Homo sapiens: one gene and its partners. The protein of the gene in region 1 purifies or fractionates together with the protein of each later gene. This does not show direct contact. Each region holds a gene or a part of one and is shown in the gene's direction. Other genes may lie near its edges.

What was found. The genes of interacting proteins can lie anywhere in the genome.
Region 2: the proteins of ZC3H18 (region 1) and LUC7L purify together in Homo sapiens (affinity purification with mass spectrometry; 4 studies listed by BioGRID and IntAct, with this or other methods). This does not show direct contact.
Region 3: the proteins of ZC3H18 (region 1) and LUC7L2 purify together in Homo sapiens (affinity purification with mass spectrometry; 5 studies listed by BioGRID and IntAct, with this or other methods). This does not show direct contact.

The regions. Positions count from the first base shown.
Region 1 is NC_000016.10:88,565,959-88,573,487, forward strand, and holds the start of ZC3H18 (zinc finger CCCH domain-containing protein 18), read left to right. Parts: upstream 1-4,444; 5' UTR 4,445-4,608; intron 4,609-7,529.
Region 2 is NC_000016.10:198,450-205,449, reverse strand, and holds part of LUC7L (putative RNA-binding protein Luc7-like 1), read left to right. Parts: intron 1-6,211; coding exon 6,212-6,388; intron 6,389-7,000. UniProt on the Homo sapiens protein: May bind to RNA via its Arg/Ser-rich domain.
Region 3 is NC_000007.14:139,355,646-139,362,893, forward strand, and holds the start of LUC7L2 (putative RNA-binding protein Luc7-like 2), read left to right. Parts: upstream 1-4,248; 5' UTR 4,249-4,616; coding exon 4,617-4,677; intron 4,678-7,248. UniProt on the Homo sapiens protein: May bind to RNA via its Arg/Ser-rich domain.

The DNA.
Region 1 (7,529 bases):
GGAGCTGGGACCAAACAGGACTGGCTAAAACAGGGCAGGGCAGAAGCAGCTTTTTATAAGACACACCAGACTGGGCGCAGTGGCTCATGCCTGTAATCCCAGCACTTTGGGAGCCCAGGCAGGCAGATCACCAGAGGTCAGGAGTTTGAGACCAGCCTGGCCAACATGGTGAAACCCTGTCTCTACTAAAAATACAAAAATTAGCCAGGCATGATGTCCCATGCCTGCAGCCCCAGCTACTCAGGAGATTGAAGCAGAAGAATTGCTTGAGCCCAGGAGACAGAGGTTGTGGTGAGCCGAGATCAGGCCACTGCACTCTAATGTGGGTGACAGAGGGAGACTCCGTCTCAGGAAAAGAAAAAAAAGACACACCCACCAGTGTTCTGTGTCAGTTTACCATCGCCATGGCAACACTCCCACCCCTTTCCATGGCAATGACTCAGTGACCCAGAAGTGACTACTCCTTCCCCAGAAATTTCTGCATAAACTGCCCCTTAATCTGCATGTAATTAAAAGTGGGTATAATGGGTCTGCAGAAGTGCGTTGAGCTGCTGCTCTCTGCCTTCTGGGCAGCCCAGCTCTGCAGGAGCCGTCACGGACCTGCCACACTGCCTCTTCAATCAAGTTGTTCTCTTCTACCTCCGGCTTGTCCTTGAATTCTTTCTTGGGCAAAGCCAAGAACGCTGGCAGGCTAAGCTCCACTTTGGGCCTCACCTGCCCTGCATCACAACCAACCAGCCCGTATCGGGACACGATCATTGACTTAAGTCCACAGTTTACATTACAGTTCACTCTTGGCGTTGTGCGTTATGTGGGTTTTGGCAAATACGTAACGTCCCATAGCTGCCATTATGGGACATTACATATTTGTACTTCTTCATACAGAAGAGTTTTGCCACCCCAGAAATGAGGCTTAAAAGTCATTTACCCACTTCCTGCTCTGGAAGAGGAGGGTCTGTGCTCTCACCGCCTGGCACGCCGTGTTCCATCCAGCCTCTGCTCTCTGAATGGTTTTTAGGCTAAATAAAATGTTTACTAAATATTTTTAAGCACTAATAACAATAACGGCCTTATGCAGTGGCTCACACCTGTAATCCCAGCACTTTGGAAGGCCAAGGTGGGAGGATCGCTTGAGGCCCAGAGTTTGAGACCAGCCTGGGCAACAGAGTGAGACCCCCACCTCTACAAGACCCCCACCTCTACGAAATGAACAAATAAACAAACATGATGGACTCCAGCTTAAAAACAGAACATCCCAACCAGGTCACGCTACTGACTATCAGCCCCCACCGCAGGCTCCGTGGCACTGCCTCCTGGTCACTGCTCCTGGGGCCCCCATCACCGCAGATTCGGCTGCCTGTAATGAGTCGCAGCAACACGAGCCGAAGCATTTGTGTCTGGTTTCTTCTGCGCAACATCCTGCCTCTGAGATCCATGTTGCTTGTAGGGGTAGCGTGTCCTTTTCGTTCCTGTACGATATTCCATTGCATGGGGGTTACACCCCAGCTGGTTCATCGTTCTGTCACTGAAGCACCTTGGGGTTCCTTCTAGTCCGGAGTGTAACGAGTCATGCTGGGGTGAACGATCTTGGATGTGCCTTTTGCTGGACGTAGCAGCTCATCTCTTCCGGGAAGTCACAGAGGAGTAGCACGGCCCAGGTGCCGCCGCACGAAGGCTGCGGTTCCGTGAGCGCCGTCGCAGGCTTCTGGAGCGGGGCCACCATTTTCACTCGAGCACAGGCCGCAGGCTCTGGGTGCCCCACACCCTCAGCAAAACCGCTCATGATTTCAATTTGATAGAAACGTGGACCGGGCGCAGTGGCTCACGCCTGTAATCCCAACACTTTGGGAGGCCGAGGCGGGAGGATCACGAGGTCAGAAGATCGAGACCGTCCTGGCTAACACGGTGAAACCCCGTCTCCACTAAAAATACAAAAAAATTAGCCGGGCGTGGTGGCGGGCGCCTGTAGTCCCAGCTACTCGGGAGGCTGAGGCAGGAGAATCGCTTGAACCCAGGGGGCGGAGGTGGCAGGGAGCCGAGATGGCGCTACTGCACTCCAGCCTGGGCGACAGAGTGAGACTCTGTCTCAAAAAAAAAAAAAAAGAAAGAAAGAAAGAAAAGAAATGTGCCCACCCTGTCTGCTTCTGCACTTGCCTTTGTCATGCAACCTCACAGATGGTCTTCACCCGTTTATTTATATCTGTGTATACACACTGGAGGTTCATGCGTTAGCATTTTTAACAACCGCGATGTTGCAAATGTTGTACCAGATTACTATTACAACAGTACAATCATCTGCTCATCAACATCTGGGTGGTTTTCTGGTTTTTTCCTTTGTTCTTTTTTTTTCTTGAGACGGAGTCTCGCTCTGTTGCCCAGGCTGGAGTGCAGTGGCATGATCTGGGCTCACTGCAAACTCCGCCTCCCGGGTTCATGCCATTCTCCTGCCTCAGCCTCCCGAGTAGCTGGGACTACAGGCGCCCGCCACCACGCCCGGCTAATTTTTTGTATTTTTAGTAGAGACGGGGTTTCACTGTGTTAGCCAGCATGGTCTCGATCTCCTGACCTCGCGATCTGCCCGCCTCGACCTCCCAAAGTGCTGGGATTACAGGCATGAGCCACCGTGCCCGGCTCCTTTGTTCTTTTAGTTATGACTACTAACAGACCTGCTATGTCCTTGTTCATGTCTCATGCCCACGGGCAGATGACACCCCAGTCCGGTGGCCCACCTGTACCACTGGGCATCAGAATCCCCTGAGAGCTCTTCATGGACCACAGGGCCCTGGGACCTCACTCCCAGTCACTGGTGCGGCCACTCTGGGGCAGAGCCCAGGAAGGCACATTGCTAACAACCCCTAGTGATACTGAGGCTGCTTGCCCGGGTCCCACTTGGAGAACCCTGTCGAGGGTGGCACTGCTGGTCACAGGGCACTTCTTTTAACTAACATTGTTTTCCAAAGAGGCTGTGACCAACAGAGTTTACTGTTCATGAAACTCAGATCGCAGACAGGCACGTGTCTGTCACAGCCGGTGCCGGCCGCTCCTTTCCATGGACAGTAACGTCCATGCAGGCTTATGTTCATCAGCTGAGAAAAGGGCACTTGCTGGGTGGGACCTTGTCTTATCGACACATAGAGTCTGCAGAAGGTGCCAACTGGTGTCGCAGGGCTGCTCCTGACACGACCCAAAATCACCAGGGTTGAATTCACATTCCTCTTACGTAACCATAACAAGTTGCTGGGACTACAGGCACGCACCACGGTGCCCTGTTAATTTTTTTGTAGAGACAGGGGTCTTGCTTTGTTGCCCAGGCTGGTCTCAAACTCCTGGAGGAGGTGGTCCTCCCACCTTGGACTCCCAAAGTGCTAGGATTACAGGTGTGAGCCACAGTGCCAGGCCTGTGGTACCTCTTCCAAGGACACTAATCCTATCAGATCAGGACCCCACCCTTATAATCTCATTTAACCTTAATTACTTCTCTAAAGGCCCTTTCTGCAAACACAGTCACATTGGGGATTAAGGCTTCACATACAAATGTTAGGGGGACAGAACTCGGTCCATAGCATGGAGTCGCACAGGTTTTGTCCTTTTGCGATTGGCTTGCTTTACTTAGTATGTTTCCAAGGTTCACCCATGTTGTGGCATGGGTCTGAACTTCACTCTTCTTGATGACTGACTCACACTCCACTGCATGGACAGCCAGCATTTTGTCTGTTCCTCAGTTTGTGGACATCTCGCCCCCTTGTTTCCACCTTGGGGATATGGAGGAAGATGGGATGAGCGAAGCCCTGTGATCCCCAGGACCAGCCACGTCGTTGGCAAGGGTCAGCGCAGGATGAAACCGCCGGCCCCTGGTCTCCGGCCGGGCCCTCCGTCTCTAGAGCAGCTCGCACCGCTGCAGCCCCTGGACGCCCCGGGCTGTGGACGCGCCCGTGGGACACCGCGCTGAGCAGGACACGCGACAGGTCCCCTCACTGGCGCTGCTCGCGTTGAACCGCGCGGGGAGCCAGGCAGCCCACGGGAAAGGTAAGAATTGTTAGGCTTTTAATCTAAAGTCGATACCTCAAAAAATAATTCCGGAGGTAAGCATTTAATATCAACATTCAATAAAGCAGGAAGTATCAGCCCGACGAAGACCGCCTTAAGTTTTCCACTTTGATGAACTCGATCATCCCCGGGGATGAAGAACCCGCCGGCCCAGCCGGAGCCCCGTCACGTGACCCGGCGGCCGCGGGGAGCTCTGTGCGCAGGCGCGGATCCGCACGCCCGCCGCCTGAGAAGCGAACTCCCCGTGGCGCCTGCGCTGTAGCGGGGGTTCGGCTGGCTCGCGCGGGTCCGGGCGCGCGCTGCGGGGGCGGAACCGCGCGGAGGCCGGAAGGAAGCTGGAGGGGGCGGGGCGAGGGAGGGAAGCCCGCCGGCCGTAGGACTACCGTCGCGGCCTGATGACGTCGCACAATGGCCGGCCCCCGCGGGTAGTGGAGCCCGTTTGTTCCGCCCGTGTCGAGCCTGGAGCCAGAACCTGTGAAGAGCGGAAGGGCCAAGGGACGTCTTCTCCACGCCGCTCCGACTCCAGGGGAGCCGTGGCCTCCTCTCCGCCCTAGCGCTGAGGTTAGCTGGGGCCGGGAGGGCGGCGGGAGGCCGGGCCGGCGGCGGCGGGAGGAGGAGGCCGCCGAGGCGGCGGCGGCGGCCGCGGGAGGGAGGCCCGGGAGCCCGGCGCGCCTCCGGCCGTGCGGACCCACCGGCCGAAGCGTGGCCCTCGGGCCCAGGGAAGGGGACCTTGAGACAGGCACCACCCCGAGTTCCGTCCGTAAGCCGGCCCCGCGGTCCTGGGGCGCCCTGGGCGCCCGAGCTCCTCGCGCGCTGCCTCCGCGCCCCGCGGCAGAGTTTATTTTCCTGAAGCTGTCATTTCTCTTCCGGGCCACTCGCGTGGCACATGTGTGCCGCCGGCTAAGGGGCGGTGAGAGGCGCCCAGATTCACCTCCAGAGTAGGTCATCCCGGGCTGCTGCTGGGCTCTTCGGAGAACTTTGAGCTCTTTATGAACCTCCTGGAACTTGCTCCGCAGCTTCAAAGTGTGCACAGGTTGGGCGCAGTGATTGCCCCAAGACGCGCGCCGGTCTCTTAGGAGTATGTAACTTCCTTGCCCCTTGGATTAGGAGATCAGAGGTGCTGGGTCCTTTATATAGACCAACTGCAGCTATAATGCTGGAAGAACTGAAACTTAACAGCCTTACTCCTGCCAAACATTTTTCCTGAATACTTTATGACAACTGAGTTTGCCGGGTAGAGTGGCCGTTTTAAATGAGCTTTGTTCGAACAACGCTAACTCATTTGCAAGAGTAGGTCATTCTTCAGACCCATTTGGGAAAATGGAAGAAGAGAGTGTTTGGCATCTGAAGTACCGTTTGGGGTGTAGCAAGGTGCTCATCATGTCTCCTGTTAGACTCACCTCCAGCCTGTTGTCTGTAGAGTAGTCCTTTCCCGTTCAGTAGTTGGGATTATCCGGGTGAGGTTTGACCTCGGCTGAATCCCGCTTCCCAGCTTTGGGAGGAGAGTCTTTTCCTGATAATTTTACTATCTAAGGGCAGTATGGAGCCCAGCCAGCCCTGGAACCAGTCAAATGTGTCCCAAAGCCGGAAACTCCTCTCCCGTTGTAGGTGGGACATGCTGAAATATTGTAAGAAAGCTTTGTGGAGTCACTCCAGAAAGCAAACAGGTAAGTTAACCTATGGCCTACATCGTGTTTACAGAGATTTGTATTTTGTCACAGCTACAGAGCATCTCAAGGTGAGTACCTCTTTATCAAGGAGTTTAGTGGTCACGCTTGGTCACTTTGCACGTGGGGTCTGTCACCAACCTTGATAACGTTCATTTAGATATTTTAAGTCCATGAGGTTATGAGTCAGAATTTTAACCAGATGTACCAGAACTTAGGCATTCAAATAGGTACTGCTCTGTTGAAAGTAATTGTCCCAAAATGTGCTTGTATTTCATCGGTGCTTCTTTGCCAGAATCTCTTTAGAACTCCTGTTGTGGTAGTAAAAATGTAGTCATATGGGAAAATCAGTCTTATTCAATAGTCACCCTCCAGGTTTGACCAAAAGTTTACTTACGTGGTTGGTAGCTCACCTTATCAGGTGAGACTCTGACTTGCAGCACTTTATCAAAGTGACTAGCTTGAGAGGAGGAAGATTTGCCACCACTAAGAATACCAGAAGACTTCTTTAGGCTTGGAAGGTCATTCGCAATGAGAAGGTCCCCAAACGCTCTGCATTTCAGCAGTGCCGTTGGAGTCTGTGCATCCTCCCAGAGGGGCTGCTCGGAAGGGAGGTAGCACCTGCTCTTTATTATTACTATTATTTTTTGAGACGGAGTCTCACTCTGTTGCCCAGGCTGGAGTGCAGTGGCAGGATCTCGGCTCACCGCAACCTCCTCCTCCTGGGCACTTATTTTAAATTCCTTTCTGGTAGGCAACAGGTAGTTCCTCAATTAACGAGTTTTTTGTCATGTATTCAACAAATATCTATCAAGTATCATCTGCCAAATGCAGAAAGCAACGGAGACGGGACGATGGGCACTTGTTATTTCATTCCTTAGGCAAGTTCACCCATCTGGTGGATCAGAGGACTAAGGATTTAGTTCTAAATTGTGCTGAAAATCTTCAGTTATAGATAGTGTAAGAAGACCAAACTGAGCACAAATTGCAAACGTGGGTATCAGTTGAGACTCTTCTACTGACACCCCTGTCTACACTTCTCATTTCATTGTCTACACTTAAGAGGCCACGTTTCCCTTCGTAGCACCTTATTACTATTTTTTGAAACGGAGTCTCACTCTGCTACCCAGGCTGGAGTGCAGTGGCATGATCTCGGCTCACTGCAACCTCCTCCTCCTGGGTTCAAGTGATTCTCCTGCCTCAGCCTCCTGAGTAGCTGGGACTACAGGCACGTGCCACCATGCCCAGCTAATTTTTGTATTTTTAGTAGAGACAGGGGTTTCACTGTGTTGGCCAAGGTGATCTCGAACTCCCAACCTCGTGATCCTCCCGCTTCAGCCTCCCAAAGTGCTGGGATTACAGGCATGAGCCACCACACCCAGCCAATTGTGTGATTTTTAAAACTAGTTTGAGGAGACATTTAGTTTTGCATAAAAGTTGGTTTATTTAAGAGATCACTTTGTTTCCAAGGTTGACATTAAACTATAAAACATGAGAATCAGAATTTGTCATATTTCAGGTCTGGGTTCAGCTTGGGGCATCCTACTGGGCACCAGGCGCTCCGCTTAGGCAGCTGGGGAGATGTGAACTACCTGCCCTTCTATGAGGAAGATGTTTATACATTGTAATAAAAAGTGTACGAAGATAGTATAGGGTGTTACTAATGTCGATAGCTAGGCAAGAGAGAGAATTGCCAGTTTGCCACCGGTGACTTACTGCCACAACCCCACGCAGACTCCCAGTCTTGAACAGTCAGTGCGTAGAGGCCTTAGCAGCCTTGGTGCTTTTCATCCTTGCTTTTGTTGCCTTGGGCTG
Region 2 (7,000 bases), about 88 Mb from region 1:
ACCCAAAGTCTGCAGAAAATGTTAGGTATGTCATGAATACATAAAATATATGAGGATACTAGTCTTTTATTTACTGCCATAAAATATACACAAGTCTATTATGAAAAGGTAACATTTGTCAAAACTTAAGCATATGGCCAGCTATGGTGGCTCTTGGCTTTAGTCTCAGCTGTTCGGGAGGCTGAGATGAGAGGATCCCTTAATCCTAGGACTTTTGGAGTCCAGCCTGGATAACATAGCAAGACCCTGTCTCTAAAAAAGAAGAGGCTACATGCAAACGCTTACAGACCATACATGACAGCATTCGCCGTAGAGAGATGTTAACAAACGTAGTGCAGAGGTGCAGTATTAAATCAGGGCTGCCTAAGAATAACTGTAATAGGTACTGTACTACTGTAATAATTCATGCCACTTCCTGTTGCCATTGTGTGGAGCTCAAGGGTCGTGAGTATCCCCTTGAAACACCACGTGACACTCATCATCTCCGAAGGAGCAGTTCACCTCTCCAGTACATTCCTACTGCAGTAAAAAGTGAACTCACAGGGTTCCTAGGCGTTTTTCATCGTGTTTAGTGCAATACCATAAACTTTGAGTAATGCCATAGGATCCATATGCCACTAGTGATGCTGAAAATGCTCCCAAGAAGGCAAGAACAGCCATGATATTACAAGAAAAAGTTGAGTTGCTTGATGTATACATTAGATTGAGGTCTGCAGCTGCAGTTGCTACCATTTCAGACGGACAATTCATCTTGTAAATGAGCAGTGTAAACGTACAGAAGTGATCAGTACAGCACAGTACTATAAATGTATTTTATTTTCTCTTCCTTATAATTTTCTCTCTTTTTTTTTTTTTTGAGATGGAGTCTCGCTCTGTCCCCCAGGCTGGAGTGCAGTGGTGCGATCTCAGTTCACTGCAAGCTCCGCTTCCTCGGTTCACACCATTCTCCTGCCTCAGCCTCCAGAGTAGCTGAGACTACAGGCGCCCACCACCACGCCCGGCTAATTTTTTTGTACTTTCAGTAGAGATGGGGTTTCACTGTGTTAGCCAGGATGGTCTCAATCTGACCTCGTGGTCCACCCGCCTCGGTCTCCCAAACTGCTGGGATTACAGGAGTGAGCCACCATGCTCGGCCCATGGCTAATTTTTTTTTTTTTTTTTCATTTCTAGTAGGGATGGGGTTTCACCGTGTTGGCCAAGCTGGTCTCAAACTTCTGACCTCAGGTGATCCGTCTGCCTTGGCCTCCCAAAGTGCTGGGATCACAGGCGTGAGCCACTTCGCCAGGCCATTTGATACCTTTTATGAGTCTTGTAATTTTTCTCATAGTGAAGATCTCATGCATGTTTTGTTAGATTTCTACCTAAATATTTCATGCTTGCGGGTGCTGGTGTAATTGGTCATTTGTTTTTTGGTTTTTGTTTTTGTGTTTTTTTGAGATGGAGTCTCATTCATTCGCCCAGGCTGGAGTGCAGTGGCGTGATCTCGGCTCACTGCAACCTCCGCCTCCCGGGCTCAAGCGATTCTCCTGCCTCAGCCTCCCGAGTAGCTGAGACTATAGGCGTGTGCCACCATACCTGGCTAATTTTTTGTGTTTTTAGTAGAGATATGATTTAACCGTGTTAGCCAGGATGGCCTCTATCTCCTGACCTCATGATCCGCCTGCCTTGGCCTCTCAAAGTGCTGGGATTACAGGTGTGAGCCACCGCGCCCAGCCCTCCCCACCTCCACCCCGCCCCCCGCCCTGAGACGGTCTCACTTTCTCACCCAGGCTGGAGTGCAGTGGCGCGATCTTGGCTCACTGAAGGCTTGATCTCCTGGGCTCATTTGATTCTCCCGCCTCAGCCTTTCAAATAGCTAGGACTGAAGGCACATGCCACCAAGCCCAGCTAATTTTTTGTATTTTTTGGAGAGACTGGGTTTCGCCATGTTGTCAAGGCTGGTCTTGAAATCCTTGGCTCAAGCGATCTGCCTAGCTCTGCTTCCCAAAGTGCTGGGATTAGAGTCATGAGTCACCATGATGCCTGGCCTCTTGTAATACCTTTATCTGGTTTTGGTATTATGGTAATGTCCCCATAGAAGGAGTTAGAAGATACTCTCTCTGCTTCTATTTTCTGAAAGCGATTGTAGAGAATTGGCATGATTTGCTCCCTAATGCTTTGGTAGAATTCACCAGTAAACCCATCTGGACCTGATGCTTTCTGTTTTGGAAGGTTATTAATATACAGATTCATTCAGATCATCTGTTTCTTCTTGTGTGAGTTTTGGCAGATTGTGTCTTTCAACATTATTATACTTTTTTTTTACACGGAGTCTCTCTCTGTTGCCCAGGCTGGAGTGCGGTGGTGCGATGGCTCGCTGCAACCTCCAACTCCTGGGTTCAACTGATTATCCTGCCTCAGCCTCCTGAGCAGCTGAGATTACAGGTGCCTGCCACCATGCCCAGCTAATTTTTGTATTTTTAGTAGAGAAGACGGGGTTTCACCATGTCGGTCAGGCTGGTCTCAAACTCCTGACCTCAAGTGATCCACCTGCCTCAGCCTCCCACAGTGCTGGGATTACAGGCGTGAGCCACTGCTCCTGGCTGTCTTTGAAGGGATCGGTCCATTTCATCTAGTTTATCGCTTTTGTGGGCATGGAGTTGTTGTTTTTAAGAGTTGTTTGTATTATTCCTTTAAAGTGGGTGGATCCGTAATGATGTCCTGTCTTTCATTTCTGATATTAGTACAGTCATATCTTTCTTAATGACAAGGATTAAATATTCTGAGAAGTGCGTTCCATGGTTCATCATTGTGAGAACATTATAGAGTGTGCTTAACAAACCTGGGTGGTATAGCCATGTGGGCTGTATGGTAGAGCCCATTGCTCCTAGGCTCCACACCTGTACAGCATGTTACTGTGCTGAATACTATAGGCAGTTGCAACACAGTGGGCCCCTAAATATTTGTGTACGTAAACATAGAAAAGGTACAGTAAAAATACAGTATAAAAGATAAAAAATAACACTTGATACGGTTTGGATGTGTGGCACGTCCAAATCTCATGTTGAAATGTGACCTCCAATGTTGGAGGTGGGGTCTAGTGGGAGGTGTTTGGGTCATGGGGGTGGTTCACTCATCAATGGCTTGGTGCCCTCCCTGGGATAGTGAGTTCACCTCAGAGCTGATTGTTTAAAGGAGCCTAGGTCCTTCTCTCTGTCTCACTCCTTCTTTTGCCATGTGATATGCTGACTCCCCTTTTGCTGCCTTCTGCCCAGCGTAAAAGCTTATGGAGGGTGGGTATGGTGGCTCATGCCTGTAATCTCAACACTTTGGAAGGTCGAGGCAGGAGGATTGCTTGAGTCCAGGAGTTTGAGACCAGCCTGGGCAACATAGGGATACCCCATCTTTACAAAGAAATTAAAAATATGGCCGGGCACGGTTGCTCATGCCTGTAATCCCAGCACTTTGGGAGGCCAAGGTAGGTGCATCACCTGAGGTCAGGAGTTCGAGACCAGCCTGGCCAACTTGGTGAAACCCCATTTCTACTAAAAGTATAAAAATTAGCCAGGTGTGGTGGCGGGCACCTGTAATCCCAGCTACTTGGGAGGCTGAAGTAGGAGAATCGCTTGAACCCAGAAGGCGGAGGTTGCAGCGAACAGAGATCGTGCCATTGCACTCCAATATGGGTGACAGAGCAAGACTCTCTCTCAAAAAAAAAAAAAAAAAAAAAAAAGCCTGGTGCGGTGGCTCACGCCTGTAATCCCATCACTTTGGGAGGCTGAGGCGGGTGGATCACGAGGTCAGGAGATCGAGACCATCCTGGCTAACATGGTGATACTCCGTCTCTACTAAAAATACAAAAAATTGGCCGGGCGTGGCGGCGTGCGCTTGTAGTCCCAGCTACTCAGGAGGCTGAGGCAGGTGAATGGTGTGGACCCGGGAGGCAGAGCTTGTAGTGAGCTGAGATCGTGCCACTGCATTCCAGGCTGGGCGACAGAGCGAGACTCCGTCTCAAAAAAAAAAAAAAAGTTATGTAAATGGAATCATACAGTAGGTAACCTTTTGGGACTGACTTTTTTTACTCAACATAATCAGAGTTTATTTTGAAAGATGTTAGAAGGTGGCATTTAAGGTTTCAAAACTATAGAAGGGGACAGAGTAATGTTATGAATATTTGTGTACCACAATATTGTTTTTGCTTAAGTTTTTTTTTTTTTTTTTTTTTTTTAGTTATGTAGCATACTATAATGGAAATTCAAGTTCTTGCTAGTTCCTTGTCTACTTTTTTTTTTTTTTTTTTCTCAGACAGAGTCTCGCTCTGTCGCCCAGGCTGGATTGCTGTGGTGCGATCTCGGCTCACTGCATCCTCTGACTCCCGGGTTCAAGTAATTCTCAGACTCAGCCTCCCGAGTAGCTGGGATTACAGGTGCCAGCCACCGTGCCCAGCTAATTTTTTTGTATTTTTAATAGAGACGGGGTTTCACCTTCTCGGACTCCTGACCTTGTGATCCACCTGCCTTGGCCTCCCAAAGTGCTGGGATTGCAGGTGTTAGCCACTGTGCCCAGCCTATTTTTTTTAATATTAGAGGGTCCTGCTGTCAGCCAGGGTCACCCAGGCTGAAGTACAGTGGCGCAGTCACAGGTCACTGCCCCTTCAACCTCCTGGGCTCAAGCAGTCCTCTCGAATCAGTCTCTTGAGTAGGTGGGACTATAGGCACGTGCCACCACAGCGGGCTAATTATTTTCTTATTTTTAGAGACTGAGTCTTGCTGTGTTGCTCAGGGTGATCTCAATCTCCTGGGGCCAAGTGATCTTCTTGCTTCACTCTCCTAAAGTGCTGAGATTATAGGTGTGAGTCACTACACCAGGCCTGGAATACAATTTTTTTTTTTTCCTTTTTGGAGTTTTCCTCTGTCCTCCAGGTTGGAATGCAGTGGTGTGATCTCAGCTCACTGCAACCTCCACCTCCTGGGCTTAAACAATTTGTGCCTCAGCCTCTCCAGTAGCTGGAATTACAGATGCCTGCCACCATCTGGCTTTTTTTTTTTTTTTTTCTTTTGAGACGGAGTCTCGCTCTTTCGCCCAGTGGCATGATCTTGGCTCACTACAAGCTCCGCCTGCCGGGTTCACGCCATTCTCCTGCCTCAGCCTCCTGAGTAGCTGGGACTACAGGCGCCCGCCACCACGCCCAGCTAATTTTTTCTGTTTTTTTAGTAGAGACGGGGTTTCACCGTGTTAGCCAGGATGGTCGTGATCTCCTGACCCCATGATTCGCCTGCCTCAGCCTCCCAAAGTGCTGGGATTACAGGCGTGAGCCACCGCGCCCGGCCAATTTTTGTATTTTTAGTAGAGACAGGGTTTTGCTATGTTGCCAGGCTCGTCTTGAACTCCTGGCCTCAAGTGATCTGTCTGCCTTGGCCTCGGAATGCTGGGATTACAGGCGTGAGCCACTGAGCCCAGCCTGTTAGTACCTTTTTTTTTTAAGATGGAGTCTCGCTCTGTTGCCAGGCTGGAATGCAGTGGCACGGTTTTGGCTCACTGCAACCTCCGCTTCCCAGGTTCAAGTGATTCTCCTGCCTCAGCCTCCTGAGTAGCTGGGACTACAGGCATGTGCCACCACACCCAGCTGATTTTTGTATTTTTAGTAGAGACGGGGTTTCACAAAGTTGGCCAGGATGGTCTCGATCTCTCTTTTTTTTTTTTTTTTTTTTTTTGAGACAGGGTTTTGCTCTTGTTGCCTGTGCGATCTCAGCTCAACAGCAACCTCCGCCTCCCGAGTTCAAGCCATTCTCCTGCCTCAGCCTCCAGAATAGCTGGGATTACAGGCATGCGCCACCACACCCGGCTACTTTTGTATTTTTAATAGAGATGGGGTTTCTCCATGTTGGTCAGGCTGATCTTGAACTCCGGACCTCAGGTGATCCGCCAGCCTCAGCCTCCCAAAGTGCTGGGATTACAGGCGTGAGCCACCGCGCCTGGCCTGGTCTTGATCTCTTGACCACATGGTCCGCCCACCTGGCCTCACAAAGTGCTGGGACCGTGCCTGGCCGCGTTTCTTAAATAAACAGTGAAAATTGAGTTGGTTATAAATATCTGAAGTTTTGTTTGTGTTTTTTTAATATTTGTTTAAAAGTCACCTCTGTCATCTTATCAAATATTTTCATTTTGGAGATTGAATTTGTGGTGGCAGTTCTATATACCTCACTTTTATTTCTCCATTTTCCTTCTTCAGGAAGAATACAGAAATTCCATGCCTGCATCCAGTTTTCAGCAGCAAAAGCTGCGTGTCTGCGAGGTCTGTTCAGCCTACCTTGGTCTCCATGACAATGACCGTCGCCTGGCAGACCACTTCGGTGGCAAGTTACACTTGGGGTTCATTCAGATCCGAGAGAAGCTTGATCAGTTGAGGGTATGTTCATCTGTTTCTGGAGAAAGCTGAGGAGTCTTGGGGTGTTTTCACATTTCTTTAATTTTTAAAAACCTTATGTTTTGGCCGGGCGTGGTGGCTGATGCCTATAATCCCAGCACTTTGGGAGGCCGAGGTGGGCGAATCACCTGAGGTCAGGAGTTCGAGACCAGCCTGACCAACATGGTGAAACCCCGTCTCTACCGAAAAATTAGCCAGGTGTGTTGGTGTGAGCCTGTAATCTTAGGTACTCGGGAGGCTGGGGCAGAAGAATTGCTTAAACCCAGGAGGCAGAGGTTGCAGTGAGCCGAGATCATGCCATTGCATTCCAGCCTGGGCTATAGAGTAAGACTCCATCTCAAAAAAAAAACAAAAAACATTATGTTCTGATCTCTAAGAACTTGAGTTTTATAGTGAAATACGCAGATTTCATCACTTGGATTCACACAAGAGACATGATAGCTCAGAGTCCAAAGGAGCCTTGGAGATTTATTTTGGACCCTGTCGTTAAGGGAAGAAAATGGCAGAGCCTGTTCCCAGAATACATACAGCTCGTTGTGTATCTCTGAAATAACTTCTGTTAGGAGATGAGAAAGAATCTCTGGTTGGTCAAGA
Region 3 (7,248 bases), on another chromosome or scaffold:
TCCATAGTGACATTAATGAACTATAAAATTTGTCAGAAAAAGGCATCGGCTTTGAAAGACCAAGGTAAAAAGTGCAAGACTGAGAGTAAAGAGATAGGATACAGTGAAAACTATCTAATATGCATGTATTTAAATGTCCAGAAGTTGATGAGAGGGGCAATATCTGAGGAGGTAAGAGCTAAGAATTTCCTAAATTGACAAAAGATGTTAGTTAATGGATTCTCAATGAACGAATGAATGAAAACTCATTGTTCAATGAGTCCATAATGGCATGATAAAGTAGCCAGCTATCTTTAAAAGAGTGAAAAACAGAACTGACTTCTTAGGAGCAGTGGAAGGTAAAAGGTTAGGTAGAATGTATGTGCCCAAAGAAAATAACCACTGGGCGTGGTGGCTCACACCTGTAATTCCAGCACTTCAGGAGGCTGAGGTGGGCAGATTGCTTGAGCCCAGGAGTTTGAGACCAGCCTGGGCAACATAGGGAGACCTTGTCTCTACAAGAAAAATTTTAAAAATTAGCTCAGTGTGGTGGTGCATACCTGCAGTCCCAGCTACTTGAGAGGCTGAGGTGGGAGGATCACTTGAGCCCGGGAAGCCAAGGCTGCAGTGAGCCAAGGCGAGATCTCGCCACTGCACTCCAGCCTGGGTGACAGAGCAAGACCCTATCTCAAAAAAAAAAAAAAAAAAAAAAAAAAAAAGGAACCTCCAACCTAGGATTTAGCTAATAAAAATATCCATTTAGAATTTAAAGCAAAATAAAGATCTTTTTAGATAAACAAAATGGGAGCGTTCCCCCAACTAGCCGACCAACACAAAAACAAACCCTGAAGCAAGGTAGGCAAACTTCATAGTCAGGCTGGGCACAGTGGCTCACCCTGGTAATCTCAGCACTTTGGGAGGCCGAGGCAGGTGGATCACTTAAGGTCAGGAGTTTGAGACCAGCCTGGCCAACATGGTGAAAACCTGCGTTAAAAAAAAAAAAAAAGTCAGATAGTAAATATTTGAGTGTTGTAGGCCACACAGTATGGGATCCCTCACAAACCACCCAACTCTATTGTGGGGCAAAAGCAACCACAACAATATGTAAATGAACGAGCCTGGCAGTATTCGAATTTTTGTGAAACTTTATTCACAAAAATAGGCCGTGGGCTGCATTTGGCCTGTGGACCGTAGCTTGCTGACTCCTGTGCTAAAGGATAAACTTCAGACAAAAAGGAAATGATCCCAGATGGACAGGCAGAGATTTCCGAAGGAATGAAGAGCAAAATAAGTGGTAAATAAAGAACATTGATTATATAAAACTTGGTTTTAAAAAATAAGAGAACTAAAAGACCTGGTAACAAGAGCATATAACTTGGGATGAGAGTAAATGGAGTTAGTGTTCTAGGTTCCTTGTATTACCTCTCTTGGGGGAGGGGAGTATAAAGGTATTGATTAAATTAGACTTTGATACCTTAAGGATACACATTATAACTTCTAGGGTAATCACTGAAAGAATAAAAATATAATAAAATGAAACTTCCACACTACTAGAGTGGAAGAAATTGGAATGATTAAAAATCAGGCAGGAAAGGAGAGAAAAACATGAAATAGATGAGACAAATAGGCAAAAATAAGAGTTTTAAACCCAAACACAGGAGTAATTACATGAATATAAATCATCAATGCTTCCAAGAGTGAACATCACTTAATTCACTCCTCAATTTCACTCCTCAATTTTGATCATTATGTATTGTATAGACTATTTTTAAGCCCCAATTATATGCTGTTTATAAGACATCTAAAATAAAAAAAAGAACTCAAATCTCTTCAACAAAACATAATTATTGGTTTTAGTGTATTTCTTTAAATACACTGTTTTTCAGGGTCAGATCACATTGTGTACATAATAGTGTATCCCTCAAAGACATATTAATTTGCACATTTTTCTATTATTATAAATCAGTTCCCAAAGGATATCCTAGTATTTGGAGTTTGGAATTCAGAGTTCTCTGAATAACTGAAGAGAAGCTATTTTGTGTATTACTAAAGATAACTTGATTCAAAATAATTTTTTTTTTTTTTTTGAGATGGAGTCTCACACTCACCAGGGCTGGAGTGCAATGGCGCGATCTCGGCTCACTGCAACCTCCGCCTCTTGGGTTCAAGCGGTTCTCCTGCCTCAGCCTCCGGTGTAGCTGGGACTACAGGCATGCGCCACCACGCCCAGCTCATTTTTTCTATTTTTAGTAGAGACAGGGTTTCACCATGTTGGCAGGCTGGTCTCAAACTCCCGACCTCGTGATTCGCCCGCCTCGGCCTCCCAAAGTGCTGGGATTCCAGGTGTGAGCCACTGCGTCCGACCTCAAAAATTTTCATTGGCCCAATACGCATTTATTTTTGAGATAGAGTCTTGCTTTGTACCCAGCCTGGAGTGCAGTGGCATAATCTCGGCTTACTGCAACCTCCACTTCCCGGGTTCAAGTGATTCTCCTGCCTCAGCCTCCGAGTAGCTGGGATTACAGGCACGCGCATCCATGCCCGGCTAATTTTTGTATTTTTAGTAGAGATGGAATTTCACCATGTTGGTCAGGCTGGTCTCGAACTCCTGACCTCAAGGTGATCCGCCCGCCTCTGCCTCCCAAAGTACTGGGATTACAGGCATGAGCCATCCCTCCCAGCCGCAATATACATTTAAAGGAATTTTGGGACTATTACTACTATTCATGTTTTTTATTGATCTGCTAATAACAGTTCCAAGGCGATGAGTATACAGTGTTAATGGAACACAAATCTCTATTATTTCCTTTCAAAGTATCCAGGAAGTGCCTGTCTTCTTAAACATTTGATTTTATTAACTCATTCTTCTTACAGTTTTAAATTTCTTTTTAGGCGATGAATATACAGTGTTAATGGAACACAAATCTCTATTATGTCCTTTCAAAGTATCTAGAAAGTGCCTGTCTTCTTAAACATTTGGTTTTATTAACTCATTCATTTTTCTTACAGTTTTAGATTTCTTTTTAAGCAACCTTTCTTCCTGCACACTGACCTATGTCTTACTTAAGGAATTTTTTTTTTTAGAAGTCTCGCTCTGTCGCGCAGGTTGCAGCGCAGTGGCGTCATCTCGACTCACTGCAACCTCCGTCTCCCGGGTTCAAACGATTCTCCTGCCTCAGCCTCCCGAGTAGCTGGGGAGGCGCCCGCCATCACGCCCGGCTAATTTTTATATTTTTAGTAGAGACAGGGTTTCACCATGTTGGCCAGGCTGATCTTGAACTCCTGACCTCAGGCAATCCACCTCCCTTGGCCTCCCAAAGTGCGGGGTTTACAGGCGTGAGCCACCGCGCCCGGCAAGGAATTAATATTTTACTAAAACAGTTTTTAGAAACACCAGGGAAAGGCTCAGGGCTAAGTATTTTATTCCAGTTTGTTCTAACAGCCACGCCATAGCAGACGTGTGACCACCTCCACCAGCCCTACGAGGGGTAGAACTGAAGCCAAGGCCCCAGTCACGGGCCGGGCTTCAGAATCCAGGCTTCCCTGCGGCCAGCGCCGCTGGCTCCCTGCTCCCCGAGATCGCCTCCCCAGTAGCTGAGAATACGCTGAGTTTTTATGGTTTCACATTCAGACTAAGCCGCCCGCGACCTTGTAGGTAAAGATGAATCCGAATGGGTCGGCGCGCCTGTTTCCTAGGGTACTGCTTTCGGGCGCTTTCTCCTGAAGTTGACACTTCCCAGCCGAGGAGCCTTAAAGCCCCACGCAGCGGAAGGAACGCGGCCCCGGCGGCGGCGAGACAGGCCTGCTCCCGGCCGGGAAAGGCGCACGAGAACCAGGACGCGTCCACGCCACTCGGGGCGGGCGTTCGCCCCGAGCACGCCCACCTCAGACGCCAAGGAGGCTGACCGCAGTCCGGTCGACGATGGGCATGGTCTCTACTTACTTTCCGCCCAGGCTAACCTCTAGCGCATTTTGCTAATTTGGGTCTGAATCGCCATCACCGCGGGCAGCGCAGCCTTAGCCGCCAGCCCTACAGCCGGGAGGGAATGTAATGTAAGGTTTGGCGCCTCGGGGCGGATCCGGCTTGCACAGTCAGTTAAGGAACCAGAGTATCGCGAGATCCGGGGTAAAGGGGCGGGAGGAGCGCGCGTGCACGCGCCCAGAGCCGTTAGGGTGGAACTCCACTCGGGCGGGGCGGGCGGAGTGATACAGCTGGACGCCAGTTGGTGGAGCCCCCGCGGGAAACGACTGAGCGCGAGGAGCGTGCGCGCTCCCGTCGTGGCGACGGTGGCGGCGAGCGGCGTCAGAGCTTGAGGGGGGGTTGACGGCTTCTGGCGGGTGGCGGTGTTGAAGGCGAGAGCTTGCTTGGCCCGTGTCGCTTCTGTCCCAAGAACCGGACGGAGAGTGAGGGCACGAGGGTCGCTGTCGGGGGCTGTCGTCTTCCACGTACACGTCGTCGTGAGGAGCGCAGTCCGGACTCTTCCCGCAACCCCTCCGGCTCCCTTTCCGCACGCCTCGAGGCGGCGGCGGCCACCGAGACAGCAGCGCACCTTCCCCCATCCCTTCCCCTTATCCCCCAGCCCAAAAGGGCCCGGTCTGCGCCCCACCCCCGCCCGTCCGCCCGCTACGCCGCCGCCATGTCGGCGCAGGCCCAGATGCGCGCGATGCTGGACCAGTTGATGGGCACCTCCCGGGACGGTAAGTCTCTGCCAGGGCCCTGGGGGTGGGGGAGGGGACGGGGACGGCGAAGGGAAGGGGTTCCGAGGGCGCACCTGGGCGCGCGCGTGTGGCTGAGTAAGGGGCTCCCAGATTGGTAACACGAGGTCCCCGTCCCCCGTCCCATCCAATCAGGGCTCGGCAGGCGGGCAGGGGGGGCGGTGACCATGCGGATTGGCGGGAACTGCTGCCAATGGGGTGAGGCGGGGCCTGGAGGCAGAAAGGAGAGTTTGTGCTTTTAATGTTGACTTGGCTGAGACGGGAGAGCCCGCGTCTCTGTTGCGTAGTTGGGGGGCCCGTTTTGTCGCTGGTTAGGTACCTGCGGAAAGCTAAGGCCTCCACCCCCGATATAATTCCTTAACCCAGAGCTTTGGGATCATCCCTCGCCGCCGTCCTCCAGAGTACCTAGAGAGAAGCTTCCCCCTCCTCTTCCTGGGTCAGGAGGAAACCTTTATTACTAACCCAGTCTCAGAGATGCACCCTCGAGCCCCACAGAAACAACCATTTTTATGGAAAATCTGACCCAAACCATGGTTTCTTAAGTGGGTGTGTTTGGCCCCATTTTGTGAGAAGGAACATGTTATGGCCTGTTTTTCCGAGAGACCTCCATTTTGTTAGACAATTTAATAGAGGCTTTGTTCAGTAAATATTGACAAATGTTGCATGTCCCTAACAGAACGATTTTGAAAATTTGGTACCCAGTGAAGTAGAATAGAGGAGAACAAAGATCCTTTCAGGCGTTTAGTTTAGAATCTGTATAGAGAGCCCTTAATTGCTGGATTATCCTTTGTCATAAAGAGAATTTCTAAATAAAATGATGAAATGCTGTTGCTTTTTTGGTGATGTTAATTAGTAATGTACTCTCAAATTCAACTTAAATACATTCAAATATGTAGGAAAGGTCTAGTTCATTACTTTCTTAACACAGCAAAATCCTTGGTAGTTTTTATGTGTTGCTTCTTTAGGCAGATAGTTTCTTAGCCACTAAGGAAATGCTTTTTTTCTTGAGAAGTTATTTAAGTGTATTGATTTAAGAGAAAAGGCACGTCTTAAATTTAGTTTTTAAGTTACTCTTTTAATTTACATGAGTGCTTTACAGCAAAATATGAGTAAATTTTAAAAATTTTATTGCATTCAAATCTTTCAGCAGTGCGTAGAGTGGCTTTTCAGTGTTCACATTTTCAGTTTTAATAAAAACCCATATTGGGAACTTTTATTTGTAGAATATATAGACAAATAGGTGTAGATGGCAAACCTACTTGTGGTTGTGTAGAGAGGAAAGATTGGGAAGGAAATGAGTTTTGTATGGAAAGTTAACATTAACTTAAAATGCCACTGGAGAAACTTTTAACTGTTATCATTTCTCACGTTTAGATAAGAATGGTTACTTTATCACTGCAGCATGTCTTAACATTCCTCCTTTTCCAACATGAGAGAGGGTATTGGGAACGGGTTTCATTGGATCCTAGCTAACAGAATAACTAATCTGTGTAATAAAATTAAGTTATTTAAGACGTGCTTTACATGATCCTTTTAATCCTTGATGGATACCATTTTTGGGATCTTCTTCATGGATTGGATTTCTTAGTTTTACTGGGAGGGTAGTTGGATCAAGGTAAACCATCTCCTGATAAGTTTCTGAATTAGGCAGCCCGTCTAGTATTGCAAAGCTAAATTTAAATATATATATTTCTGTGTGTGTAGTCAGCAGAAACATGGATTTCTTAAAATCCACTTTGTGTATTTTTTTATGTGTCTGTTACTGGATTTTTTTTTTTAACCTTCAGACTTAGAGGATTTATGATCGAACTCATATTTACGAGTCCACAGTATTGTTTAGCTGAAATGACTGGATTTTCACTGCTGTATTGGGTTAGAAGTAAAAAATATACTACTTTCAAGGAAAAATAATTGAGTGGAGTTTTTTTTAGATATCAAAATTAATTCTATATATGCAAAATAATCAGAACATTCTTTTTTTTCTTACCATTTAATGAGTTTATATATATCATTTTATGATTCAGGACTTTTAATAATTAGGATTGTTCTTTTTTAGCATACAGTCAACTTCAAGTTACCCAGGGATAGGGGAACATGGAAACGTCCCCTGAATAACACCATGTAATTTGAAACCATTTAATGGGAACCCTTGTATTGGACACACAAACAGCCTATGGGAACGCTGTTGGGTGTCTTTGGCACTAAGAGGTGGAAATGGGTATCCAGGAGGTGGGAGAGAGATGGAAAAGGTAGGTAGGAGGGTATTTAAGGCAACTCTGTCCTTTTTTTTTTTTTTTTTTAATTCCAGAGACTATAAAGCAGCGACTCTCTTTTTTGGAAGTGGGGTTCAAGGTGGCAGTGACCCCCTCCACTCTTAGTGTCCTGTCTGTGAAGGAATCTGAAGTGGCACAGAGTCCTGGGGCTTTGGGAAAACATTACCTCCTCACCCCCTCAAGGTTTCTTCCCCCTCCCCTTCCTGACAGTTTTTAATTAGTTCCTTTTAAAATTCATTGGAGATTTAAGTCTGTTAGTTAAATATACCTTAACTTGAAT